Regions from separate parts of the Homo sapiens genome. Here region 2 is linked to region 1. Evidence: fine-mapped expression QTL. A gene starts in region 1. The other region holds a variant in brackets. All regions are shown on one strand. Distances are between the middles of the regions.

Evidence for each region. PIP is the estimated chance that this variant, and not a neighbour inherited with it, causes the effect. A credible set is the group of variants that fine-mapping cannot tell apart.
Region 2: its variant is the best candidate, but not a certain one, in a credible set for the expression of CABCOCO1 in sun-exposed skin (GTEx, PIP 0.57).

What each region holds. Positions count from the first base shown.
Region 1 is chr10:61,661,693-61,664,622 of GRCh38, forward strand. CABCOCO1 (ciliary associated calcium binding coiled-coil 1) reads left to right here and starts at 1,237. Exons shown (of 8, transcript NM_001366906.2): 1 at 1,237-1,340. The coding sequence starts at 1,281.
Region 2 is chr10:61,736,841-61,739,770 of GRCh38, forward strand. All of the region lies in intron 5 of CABCOCO1 (ciliary associated calcium binding coiled-coil 1), which reads left to right. Among named protein-coding and RNA genes, the nearest start is that of CABCOCO1, 75 kb to the left of the region's middle. The variant C/G (reference allele first, on the strand shown) is at 1,179.

The DNA of each region.
Region 1 (2,930 bases):
AACAAGGGAAACAGTAAAACCCACTTGAAAAGATGGGCCATACATTTACAAGACTAGAGACAACTCATAAACACAGGTTGACAGTACAAACTGTATACTTTGAACTATGAGACAATTTGAAGGAAAGGCACAATTATCATGAGGTTATATAAAGCTAATGTGTTATATTTGGTCTAAAAGACAATGGGCTAATATAAAGGAGAGGTTCATGATGAAATATTATATTATCCTGGCAGCTGTCTACAATATGGACTAACATCAGGAGAAGCACAATATTAATACTAACACTAATAATATCAAACACAGACCACTACTAGGTGTCAAGGCTGATATAAACATTTTCATATATATATTAATCTGTTCAATCTTCACAGTCATGTTTTGAGGCCAATACTGTTATTTCATTTAACAGATGAGGAAACCGAAGCACTTAAATGATGTCTGATTTTCACAGGAAGTGTCCTGCATAGCAACCTACATGCAGGTAAATACAAGCCAAGTACATTTCGTTTTCAAAGGAGGCGTTGATCATCCAAAGAAGTCAAGAATACTCATGCTGCTATGTGACATTTCTTATTGTTTGTAAATGTTTTTGTTGTGGAACACTTCAAACATATACAAAAGGAGAATAGTACACTTTCTTTCTAGTGTACTATTAAGTGCACTATTAAAGATCGAACCCCTTCCATTCACATGCCTAATCTAGATGCATGTGCTATACCACCACTCATTTCCTGTGCCCCTCCCTCATTATTTTGGAATAAATCACATATTTTATATCATTTCATCATCACTAAATTGTTCGGCATGTATCTCTAAAAGATAAAGACATATTTTTCCTTCTAAACATGACCACAATACCATCATGATACTTTAAAATTTACAATGATTGCTTAGTATCAAACATCAATCAGTGGTTGAAGTTCTAATAATATATCTTACTTTAATATTTGTTGAAACTTGCAATGTGCTAGCATTAGGTACTTTGACATATTTCATTTAAATTACTACTACTTGAATTGCCTTTTCCCCACTTTCACTCCTACTAACAGGAAAGACTCGGTCTCTCCCAGAGGATTCAGGGCCTCCGTAGCGGGCTGCTGTCGGCCTCCCTCCCGGCCTCCTGCTCCTCTGCGCGGTCCCCAGCCCTCTACCCGGCGGGCAGAGGCTCGGGCCCAGCGCCGCCTTCCGCTGGGATCTGTTCCCAGGCCCAGGGACGCCGGCCCCACCCCAGTTGCCTAGGTGACGAGGGGCCGCTTCTCTCGGCCGAGATTGCGGCGATGTCGCAGGGGACGACTCCCTGGGGGCCGACCCCGGCGGGAACCACGCCCGAATCGGAGGTACACCGCCCCTTTCCCTTCCCGGTACCGGTGCCGGTACCAGAGACCTCCGAGCGCTCATTCCCAGTCCGCGGAGTCTGCGGCCAAGCCAAATCCGGTCTCCGAAGAGGCGCCGCACGTCTGGCCCCGGCTGGTGAGCGGCCTGGGAGGGCGGCAGGGCTGGGAGCTGCGCTGGGGTCCCCGACACCCTCTGCAGCCCGGCGCCCCCCAGCCGGCCCCGGCGCGCCGTGCACGGTGCCAGCGGGTCTAAATGTATGAATTCTTCCATTGGACGGCTCCGTGCCCAAACGCCCTCATAACCACGCGCTTCTACCGCAGGTTTTGTTTTTTGGTTTTTCATGTTTTTTTTTTTTTTAATTCTAGGTAAAATAAGTAATCTCAGATTTTTAAATGAGCCAGTCTCTTTTTGAAATTGCTACTAATTTTGTAATGATTACAGTGTTGCGATTGCTCAAAAGGTGTCATGAAATAATAACTGTTTACTGGTGATGGACTGATTAATATTAGAAGATTGGTGTTTCCATTATTTTGCCATTTTCCTAAACAAATAAATACAGGTGAAAGGACACTGGCTGGAAAATCTTCTCTGGTTATGGCTTTAGTTGCTCATCAGCTTGACTTTAGGAAAGTTATTTAATCTCCTTGGACACCAGTGGCTTCCTGTGTGACAAAAGGTTGATCTTTAGGCCCCTCCCATCACCAGCTCTCCATAATAAATGGGTTTTAAGTAACTTTACTCATAAACTTAATATCCTGAGATTTTAAGAACACATCTGCTGTGCCAGATATTATAAAAAAAAAAGTTTAAATCTTTGCACACGGAGTCTGTTACGATTGTTCCTAGGAAGTTTTTTTTCCTCCGTTTTGTTAAGGCTCTCAAGGTGAATAATCATGTCTTAATTAACATTGCTTTGCTTGACTTCCTTATTCGTTGGTCTAAACGACATTCTTTGTGCAGAAGATAAGTGTTAGCTGCAATTTTATAAATGAGGAAACACAAGGAGCCAATAATTCCATGCCTTGCTCAGAGATATATAAGCTGTTCCCAGTCGAGATTCCTACCAATACAAAATGCAGACCACTAAGGCATGCGGACTCTCATATGAGCCTTTTGAAATTAGCAGACATTAAAAGTACATTTTAATGTGATAAACTGGTACTAAGCCTATTATTCCCTTGTGATCTCTAATGTAAGTAATACAATTTCAAAAGTAGCACAGGAAATTTTCCAATTAAATTGTGTTATTTAAATATATACCAAGCTTAAGACTATGCACAATTATCAGTGTACACATACATATGCTCACCCACGTAGACCATGTCCTTTCCAAAAAGACTGATCATTTGGGGGTTTTAATGAATCTGGACTTTAAAAAAATACAAAATTTTTTAAAAGATGTAAAGAAGTGCTATGCTTCAGGAAAAAAAATCATTTTATAATGGTTGAGTCAGATGAATGAGCTAGTTATAGATCTTAGATTATTATCTACCCTCTTAGGATTGTCAGCTTGCACATTTTTCAACTTCTTGGAGGGCCAGGTATTCTCATGACATGCAATTCAGGATGTGCTCAATCACTTAGTAACAAAC
Region 2 (2,930 bases), 75 kb after region 1:
TGCAGAGATCTTTCACCTCCCTCATTAGCTGTTTGCCTAGGTATTTTATTGTTTTTTTGTGGCTGTTGTGAATGGGATCGCCTTTCTGATTTGGCTCTCAGTTTGGTTGCTGCTGATGTGTAGGAATACTAGTGATTTTTGTACACTGATTTTGTATTCTGCAACTTTGCTGAAGTTGATTATCAGCTGAAGGAGCTTTTGGACCAAGACTATGGGGTTTTATAGATAGAGAATTATCTTGTCATATGCAAACAGAGCTAGTTTGGCTTCCTCTCTTCCTATTTGGATGCCCTTAATTTCTTTCTCTTGCCTGATTGCTCCAAAGAAGACATACATGCGACCAACAAGCATATGAAAAAAGCTCAATATCACTGATTATTAGAGAAATGCAAATCAAAACCACAATGAGATAGCGTCTCACACCAGTCAGAATGGCTATTATTACAAGGTCAAAAAATAACAGATGCTGGTGAGGTTGCAGAGAAAAGGGAACCCCTCTACACTGTTGGTGGGAGTGTAAATTAGTTCAATCATTGTGGAAAGCAGTGTGGTGATTTCTCAAAAAGCTAAAAGCAGAACTGGTAACCATTTGACCCAGCAATCCCATTACTGGGTATATACCCAGAGGAATATAAAGCATTCTACCATAAAGACACATTCACGCGAATTTTTGTTGCAGCACTATTCACAATAGCAAAGACATGGAATCAACCTAAATGCTCATCAATGACAGACTGGATAAAGGAAATGTGGTACATATACACCATGGAATATTATGCAGCCATAAAAAAGCACAAGATCATGCCTTTTGCAGGAACGTGGTCGGAGCCAAAGGCTATCATCTTTAGCAAACTAACACAGGAACAGGAAACCAAATACCACATGTTCTCACTTATAAGCGAGAGCTAAATGATAAGAATTTATGAACACGAAGGAGGAAACAACAGACACTGGGGTCTACTTGAAGCAGGAGGGTGGGAGGAGGGAGAGGAGCAGAAAAGATAACTATTGGGTACTGAGTTAAGTACCTGGGTGATGTAATAATATGTACAACAAACCCCTGTGACACATGTTTACCTATGTAACAAACCTCCACATGTACCCCCAAACTAAAATAAAAATTTTTTTAAATGATATCTGGGGAAAATGTGGGAAATATCTTCACTTACCAATTAAAG[C/G]GTATACAAAAAAACAATAAATAAAATATCTTATTTAAAAAAAAAAAAAACAAAGACACCTCCCCCACCACTATTCTAATTCAATAGGTCTGGGGTAGGGCTTGGCATCTCTAGTTTTTAAATGCCCCATGGTGATTCTGATGCACAACCAGTGGCTGAAAACCAGCAAATTAAATTTTGCTGCAACTGTGTATAATTTGCCAGCATACGTTCATCTACCATCTACTCTCCCAAAAGAGACAGGAATGGAGGCCAGTTACAGGAGCAGAAAGGTAGCAGGAGCCTAGATCCCATAAGATTTTGTGAAAAGCAGAGCCACCATACAGCTTGGTACTGTCTATTTCTGGATTTTTATGTGAAGGCAAGATAAAATACTGTCAGGTCAAAGCTGCTGGAATTTGAATTTTCTGTCACTTTAACAGCTAAATATAATACCATCTAAATATACCAATATCACTACTTTATATTGCTTGTAAACAAATATATTTTTGCTAGTAAACAAATATTATATTGCTAGTAAACAAAAATTAGCCACCTTTAATTTTTACATATTTAAATTCAAAACATCTTAATGATAAGTCCAGAATCACCTCTATTATAACATATTTTGTCTTCTCAAAAAAATATGTTGTCTTATAATTGTAACTAAATATTATTGTAGTCTACATTATGTCTTAACAATTGTACAATAAATGTTGTAGTGGCTTGAACCTTCTTGCAAATTATGCACAGTAAAAACTATATTAAATCAAGCCCAAATAACTTTGAATTTCAAATATATCAACTTGGCCTGCACTAATAGTAAATTTTGGTCTATAAAAAAACAAAGACACTCATAATTTAGAGACTATTACATGGAGGCTGTTTATAAACCAGCTCTTGCTCTCTTAAGCAGAACAGTTTGAATTTGGCAGCATTTGTTGTTTATATGCAAATGGACATTGCTAATTACAAGTGAGTTTTTTTTTTCTTAAGTCATTTAGGTATATCCAGAATCTCAACTTGTAACCTTTTATTAGCACTGTCAGTTACTATACCAGTCTTTTTTAATAGGGATCTGCAAGAGAACTACATTCTACGGAAAACGATTAAATGACTATTTTCTGAATTTTCTCAAGGATAGTTGCATAGCTAGTAAGATTCTAGATGCATTGGAGAGAAATTAACTCATTACAAAAGTGGATGCCTCGGCCATGAGGGATAAATTCTCTAGGAATCTTGCTCGAGAGGTTGAGAATTGCTACCACTTGAAAGTGAAGTTTTATTTAGAAATATTCTATAATTCAGACTGCTCTCAAATTTAGACTAGCTTTCCACCAAATTCATCCAAATTGAAAGTATTTACTAGATATGGAAGTAGCTTTAATTCTTCAGAAATTTGAGTTCATTTTTTAAATTCTATCTTTGGTAAAAGTTCTCATGTAAATGTTATAAACAGCAATTTAGATTGCAAGTTTTAAGCATGAGACTGGTATGATAACAGCAGTATTTTGAGCAAAGTAACTTGGCAATGTTATAACAACATTTTGAAATGAAAAGTGATTAGGGACAGAGAGATTAATTGGAAAATTAGGAAATTGCTAAGTTTTTTTTTTTAATGCTAGCATATAGCAACGGTAATGGAAAGGAATGGACTTATGTAAAAAATATTGGCTGGGTGCAGTGGCTCATGCCTGTAATCCCAGCACTTTGGGAGGCTGAGGCACGAGGTCAGGAGATCGAGACCATCCTTGCTAACACAGTGAAACCCTG